Homo sapiens: one gene and its partner. The protein of the gene in region 2 interacts with the protein of the main gene of each other region in a biochemical or structural test. Each region holds a gene or a part of one and is shown on either strand. Other genes may lie near its edges.

Region 1 (3,817 bases), on a different chromosome or scaffold from region 2:
TATTAACTCATTTAACCTTCACACACGGACGAAGTAACTAAGGCACAGAGAGGTAAAGTAACTTGCCCAGGGTCACTCAGCTAAGACATGGCAGGCCCAGGATTGAAACTCCAGAACCTGAGCTTTTAACTGCTATGCTGTAGTCTTCCTCTAAACAGCTTTGCTCTGAGCAAAAGCCCCTTCCTCCCTTTCTTATAGGGGTGGGGGGCTTGGGGAGGTTAGGCTTATTTATGTCCCCCAAGAACAGGCATGATGAAGCTGGCCACAGGAGATACATGCAAAGCCCTTTCTGAGTGAGTGGCATGCCACTTCTCCTGGATAGCTGTAGCATCCAGGAGATATGTAGATCTGGCCCCTCAACCTAAAGGCTATGGCATCTCTGCCACCTGTCCTTAAATCCATCAGCACTGCCCTCAGTGACCCCTCTATAGAGAGGTAGCTCACCCTCCAAGGCTGGCCTGGCAGAGGGAGGTCTCCTAGCTCTGGAGGAACCAGGTGCACTGGACATGCCAATCTGGGGTAAAATCAAGCCAATGCCTCAACACTTCTGGAAAGCATCTCAGGGGCTGGCCTAACTAAAACCCAAAGCGGGACGGCACAAGGTCAGACGCAAGCAGCACTGGGGAGTAGGCAGATGGTCTCTGGGGCTCCTCAAAGCATTTCCCATAGGCACTGCCCACAGCCCTCCTGAGGGATGAGAGAGACTCAACCTCACTGGCCACCCAGTCCGTCTTCTTCAACTGCTGAAACCCTACTCGTGCTTAAAGGGCCAGGCCAAGTTCGACCTCCTCCTCAGTGTCAGAGGGGGTCTTTCCCTCTCCTGCAAGCCATTATTCAGGTGGCAGACATCTAGCACACAGTGGCCAGCCCAGGATTTCTTTGTTCCAGGTACGTGCCATTTTTCTCCTTTGTTGAGCTCCTCAAGGGCAGAGGAATTGCCCCTTGAGCTGAGTCTCAAAGGTCAAAAAGTTACCCTGGTACAGAGAAGAGACAGGGATGCCAATCACGAGATCCAGAGTGTGTGTGCAAAGCATGCTGTTTTTAGGGGACTCAACGGGCAAGTGGGGAGAGACAAGGCTGGTGAGACAAGACCTTGAAGGAAAAAGCTAAGGAATGTGCACTTGTAATCCAGAGTCCCAGCCTCATCCTCACCCTACTAAATTCTGCTCCAATCTCTGAGAGCAGGGCCTGCTCATGTGCACTTCTCTACTGCACACCACACCATACACTACTCTGATGCACTGCTGGTTAGGAGTAGTGTGGGACAGAGAGTGCGCTGACCAGTAAGGAGTTTAGATGAACCATTAAGGAGCTCGATGCAGGTGTCTACCACAAACAGGGATGGCCTGAACTGAGGCAGTGGGAGTGGCAGTGGCATTGGGAGTGGGAGTGGGGATGGAGAGAAGACAGGCAGAGAAGAGAGACTGAAGGCATAGTTCAGCAGAATCCGCCAGGTGACTAGACAAGGGAGGAAGAGCCGAGAAGGGCTCCGCTGGCGTTTTTTCCTTGAGCAACTGAGTAGACAAGTGAACCATTAACTAAGGTGGGACAGGAGGAGATGCATGGGGCCAGAGGGAGAGAGTCACAGGAGGAGCTAAGACTCAGATGCCTACAGATCTATGTGCCGTTCCCAAGAAAACTCTGGAAGTGGTTGGAGTCTGGCTCAGGAGGAACGTCTCTGTGGCTCTCTAATGTGCACAGTGTGTGCAGTGTGTGTGCAGTGTGAAGCTGCAAAGAAATGTGGCTCTCACATTTACTGCTGTAGCAAAGAATATAGAAATATCTTAAACGTAATAAATGTTCCAATAAAATGAGAATACTTTCAAGTGTCCTCTTATAATAAAATTTTAAAGCAACAGTCTCCTAATTTAGAGTTTTAACAAGATCAGAAAAGGCCCCAGTACCCTGAGACAAGAGTTTTTGTCTCAGGGTTTTCTTTTTTTTTTTTTTTTTTTGAGACGGAGTCTCGCACTGGAATGCAATGACACAATCTTGGCTCACCGCAACCTCTGCCTCCCGGGTTCAAGCAATTCTCCTGCCTCAGCCTCCCGAGTAGCTGGGATTACAGGCACCCACCACCACGCCCAGCTAATTTTTTGGATTTTTAGTAGAGACGGGGGTTTCACTATGTTGGCCAGGCTGGTCTCGAACTCCTGACCTCATGATCCGCCCACCTCGGCCTCCCAAAGAGCTGGGATTACAGGTGTGAGTCACCACGCCTGGCCTGCCTCAGAGTTTTCTAGTAAATACCTTAAAAGGTCCCAAATGTTGCAATAATTGAGTATACTCCTTCCCATCACCTGTCCCAAACATTTACAAAGAATACCATTAAGGGAGGCTGAAACAGTCCCAACTTACTGGAATGCATGAATTTAGAAAAAAAGACGCAACGTTTTTCTCAATTCACAAAGCCTCAGTGGATTCAGGACATTTACACTGGCATAACATCACATATAAAACTCCCCTCACCTCCTGAAACATGTGACATACTCATTGCTCTATCTCCTTAATCACCCAACCTCAGAATCTAAACCTATACTCAAAAGCAAACTACCTCACTGCTTAATACAACGAAACCCAAGGAATGAACTTTTAGAGGTTCCTCCTACTATGACTATGAACTGGGAGAAAATATAACAATATGAAGTTCTGAGTGAACATTTTTAAATAGCATTAGGCTGGGCGCAGTGGCTCACACCTGTAATCCCAGCACTTCGGGAGGCCTCGGCGGGCAGATCACCTGAGGTTAGGAGTTAGAGACCAGCATGGCAAACATGGTGAAACCTCCTTTCTAATACAAAATTAGCAGGGAGTGGTGGTGCACACCTATAGTATCAGCTACTTGGGAGGCTGAGGCAGGAGAATCGCTTGAACCTGGGAGGCAGAGGTTGTAGTGCACAGAGATCGTGCCATCGCGCTGAAGCCTGGGCAACAAGAGTGAAACTCCTTAACTCAACAGTTATGTCATGATAAGTAATAAGACATTACACACACACCCCTCTAAATCCACAGATTTCCCCTCTGAGAAAAGCCCTTCTGGGAAGCTACTCAACAGGAGGGCCCTTAGGGGAAATGTGTGCAGTGTGAAGCTGCAAAGAAATGATCAGATGGCAATCAGTTGCCTAAGCCACACATAAAGGTTTCACTTTTGGCTTTTGCAGCAATTTCCCCATCCTGATTGAAGCAATGGTTACAATCTGGTTGTAGCCAACAATGCTAAATTAGCTGCTTGCAAATTAAAATGTACTTAATGTTTTATTAACACTGTAATTCCTAAAAAGGCTTCTAAAAGAGGTTAAGCCTCCTGGCAAGTGCTTTTGAAATAAAAGACTTTATCATACTCACTTTGCCTAAAATAACTTCTCAGTGTAGTATATGTAAATCACTCTACTTTTAATAATGTGTTTTACACTATCTGCAGACAGTCCATTGTTACAAAGAAATCTTTGCTGTGGAATGTCCTAGAAAACATTTTTAACAGAAATCTAAAGTTCTTTAAGATGTAATTAATTTGATCATTCAACATTTGCTAGATTGCTATGCCTAAGGCACTGTTCCATGCACTAAGCCCCAACTTTTCACCAACGAAAATCACTTTATTACCACCCTATGTACTGAAAAGACTGTTTATCAACTTGTATCAATAATTTTTCTTCCTTTAAAAGAAAAAAAAAACAGTCTTAAACATTGATTCTCACAGCCAATGATCAGCATTACATAACTGGTGTTCCCCTAGTGAACTGAAAGCCTTTCCATCCTCAACTTAAGAAACAACACACCGCTCCATGCAGCCTTTGAGTAAGAAAGACAGCCTGAC
Region 2 (3,817 bases):
GTGAGTTGTCATGTAATCATAACCTTTGTGAATTTATTTATGTTTTTTAAATTTTCCAGAAATGATCCTAGATAATTGATAGATCCTGTGGTTCAACTGGATTTCTAGATAGAAGCTGGATTCATGTGATGCCAGAGGTAAGAGTAAGAGCAAAATCTTCGTTTTTACCTCATTTGGATTTCTAATCACTTAGCAAGACTTGGGACTCGGTGTTATTAGTGGATGGAATTTGGTAATTAAAAAAAATCCCCAGTTCTAACCTTAGGAGAATTTTCCTGTTTAGGGATGAGGAGCCAGTGCTGGTTTGCCCTTCCTCAGTCATTTACAGTTTGCCATGATGAAATGCATGTTAAGTCCGTGTTTCAGCTGATCAGCCTGATTAAACACATGCTCTGAGCAGACTAAAGCTAGGGGCAAACACCTGCAATTGAATTCTGCTTGTTGGAATTCATACTGGGATTTAGTCTGTAATCCCAGGTAATTCTTAAATCTTAATAAATTATGAATTTGAGACTAATGTTTTGTTGTGCTTTGATCTTTTGTGATATCTCTATATCCCCAAAAAATCACTTTTGTGAGTTAGAACTAGGGTCAGGAATCATTAATCTAAAAGTTCAAACACTACAGAAAAAGCACTGGCAACTGGTATAATTCTATAGGCAATTTAGCCTGGCAGTTTTAAACTAATCATTATTTTATCAATCTATACATGTAGATTAAAGGAAACACAGAGTTGGTTAAATCAATTTTGTGAAGACTATACGGTACAACACTATAGAATCACTTAAAAGTTATGATACAGTTTTATGTTTATTGAAATAGAACGGTATTCATGACACATGAAAAACAGATTATATAGAGCAATATGTTTCTGCTTAAATATTTTTATATGCATATGTTTGCTTAAGAAAACTGAAAGGACATATATACTAAAATACTAGGGGGTTATTTTCTCTAGAATTGGGTTCTACAAGTAATCTTTTATTATTATAAACCTATTTTCTAATTTTATTGTATTCATGTATTGTAATATTTTAAAAGTTATTTTAGGTAACTTAGGACAAGCTTATATTCTTTACCCGTGCCTGCATTTTCAGCAGAGAATTAGGTAGAAAGAAGGGTGAAATACAGGAAATACAAACAACTCAAAGTAACATCAGGACTTGAAATAATTTTTTAGCTTTTGTTGTCTTTTGCAGGAGTAAAATTTCAAGAGACTGAAACCAGATCTGAGTTTCGCTGTTCCAGTCTGGACCTCTTTGGTGCTGTAAATCCTGGATATACTGTAGATGAGTACTGCGTTTTTCTTTTATGGTAAGGCTTACGTTGAGATTGAGAAGCTTTGCCATATATATGAGTCTTTGAAAATTCAGGTTTGTGACTTCATGGCCAGCTGCTAAGGTGCTATAAATTTCACTTTTTTTTTTTTTTTGAGACGGAGTCTTGCTCTGTCGCCCAGGCTGGAGTGCAGTGGCGGGATCTCGGCTCACTGCAAGCTCCGCCTCCCGGGTTCACGCCATTCTCCTGCCTCAGCCTCCCAAGTAGCTGGGACTACAGTTGCCCGCCACTACGCCCGGCTAATTTTTTGTATTTTTAGTAGAGACGGGGTTTCACCGTTTTAGCCGGGATGGTCTCGATCTCCTGACCTCGTGATCCGCCCGCCTCGGCCTCCCAAAGTGCTGGGATTACAGGCGTGAGCCACCGCGCCCGGCTAAATTTCACTTTTTAAAAGTCAGTTGAGGCCAGGCGTGGTGGCTCACACCTGTAATCCTAGCACTTTGGGAGGCCGAGGTGGGTGGATTGTCTGAGCTCAGGAGTTTGAGACCAGACTGGCCAACATGGCAAAACCCCATCTCTACTAAAAAAATACAAAAAATTATCTGGGCCTGGTGGTGTGCGCCTGTAGTCCCAGCTACTCAGGAGGCTGAGGCTTGAACCCAGGAGGTGGAAGTTTTAGTAAGCAGAGAGAGCGCAACTATACTCCAGCCTGGGTGATAGGGAGATTCCGTCTCCAAAAAAAAGAGTCAATTAAAGATGTTGAGAAGTAGCATTGTATAGTATATATATGGGTTCTGGAGTCAGACTGAGTTCAAACGCATGCTCTATCACTTCACCAGTTATGCAGCATTGGCAAGTTTCCTAATATCTATGTCTTAGTTTTATATTTTAGAGGATGGCAATAGTATTTGACTCAGGGTGGTTATTTTGAAGATTAAATTAGTAAGGGTGTGGGTAAAGCATACGGTAAATGCTCAGTTTGATGTTAACTATTTGTCATCAGAATCCATGCGTATATTTCTCTTAGATTCTGTACTACCTGGCAATTTTTGACATCTGCATAATAGATTGACGAAAATTCTTTGTTTTGGCCTGACGTGGTGGCTCATGCCTGTAAACCCAGCACTTTGGGAGGCGAGGTGGGCAGATCACCTAAGGTCAGGAGTTCAAGACCAGCCTGGCTAACATGGTGAAACCTCGTTTCTACCAAAAATACAAAAATTAGCTGGGTGTGGTGGCGTGCACCTGTAATCCCAGCTACTTGGGAGGCTGAGGCAGGAGAATCGCTTGAATCTGGGAGGCAGAGGTTGTGGTGAGCTGAGATCGCACCACTGCACTCCAGCTTGGGTGACAGAGCTAGACTTCGTCTCAGAAAAAAAGAGGAAATTCTTTGTTTTTATTGCTCATATATCTTTCTGTTAATTAGACTACCCCTCATTACCTTCACCCCGCCCCTCAAAACTTAATTAAGTTCTAGAATTAGTCATAGGCACTATAATGTGTATCTTTATATAATTGTTGGAATAACATTTTCTTTAGTTGGTTAATCTTGATTTTGGTACTAACTTGTTATCTAGTTCCTCATTTTCCCTTGCTGGATCAGTTGATCCTTAATGATCTCTTCTAGTTCTTACTTTTTTTTTTTTTTTTTTTTTTTGAGACGGAGTCTCGCTCTGTCGCCCAGGCTGGAGTGCAGTGGCACGATCTGGGCTCACTGCAAGCTCCGCCTCCCAGGTTCACGCCATTCTCCTGCCTCAGCCTCCTGAGTAGCTGGGAATACAGGCGCCCGCCACCACGCCTGGCTAATTTTTTTTGTATTTTTAGTAGAGACGGGGTTTCACCGTGGTCTCGATCTTCTGACCTCATGATCCACCCGCCTCGGCCTCCCAAAGTGCTGGGATTATAGGCGTGAGCCACCACGCCCGGCCTCTAGTTCTTACTTAGATGTAATGATTCCTATCTTATAAGAGTCTCTTGATGTCTTCATTTTTTTTTTTTTGAGACAGGGACTCATTCCATTGCCCAGGCTGGAGTGCAGTGGCATAATCAGGGCTCACTGCAGCCCTGGCTTCCCAGCCTCGGGTGATTCTCTCACCTCAGGCTCCCAAGTAGCTGGGACCACAGGCCACCATGCCTGGCTAATTTTTTGTATTTTTTTGTAGAGATGGGGTTTTGCCATGTTGCCCAGGTTGGGATGTCTTTATTTTTTATAAACGTTTCTTAAATTAATGTGGTTGGAGTTAAACTTTGATGGCTGTTCCTCTCACTGCTTGAAGCCTTAGGCAGTGGGATTTTGATCCATCATATATCAAAAATGGCTTATCTTCACTCAGGGCACCATGAGGATGGGCTGGCTGTCCGTTAGTGCCTTCTGATTTTTGCGGAGTCAAACAATTACTAAACGGGTGGTGATTCCAGATTAAGAAAATGTACCTGTGATTAAAAAAATAAAAGAAGCAGCCTAGTTTCAAAACACGAGCATATAGTAATTAGATAGCTGTCATCTGGTGCTGTGAAATAAAGCCAGTTGATTCTGAGA

What was found.
Region 1: the proteins of CCNB1IP1 (region 2) and UBE2L3 form a complex in vitro, tested with the Homo sapiens proteins (one study listed by BioGRID).

The regions. Positions count from the first base shown.
Region 1 is NC_000022.11:21,570,561-21,574,377, reverse strand, and holds part of UBE2L3 (ubiquitin-conjugating enzyme E2 L3), read right to left. Parts: intron 1-3,817. UniProt on the Homo sapiens protein: Ubiquitin-conjugating enzyme E2 that specifically acts with HECT-type and RBR family E3 ubiquitin-protein ligases.
Region 2 is NC_000014.9:20,323,036-20,326,852, reverse strand, and holds part of CCNB1IP1 (E3 ubiquitin-protein ligase CCNB1IP1), read left to right. Parts: intron 1-59; 5' UTR 60-137; intron 138-313; exon of another isoform or gene 314-412; intron 413-1,199; 5' UTR 1,200-1,314; intron 1,315-3,526; exon of another isoform or gene 3,527-3,674; intron 3,675-3,817. UniProt on the Homo sapiens protein: Ubiquitin E3 ligase that acts as a limiting factor for crossing-over during meiosis: required during zygonema to limit the colocalization of RNF212 with MutS-gamma-associated recombination sites and thereby establish early differentiation of crossover and non-crossover sites.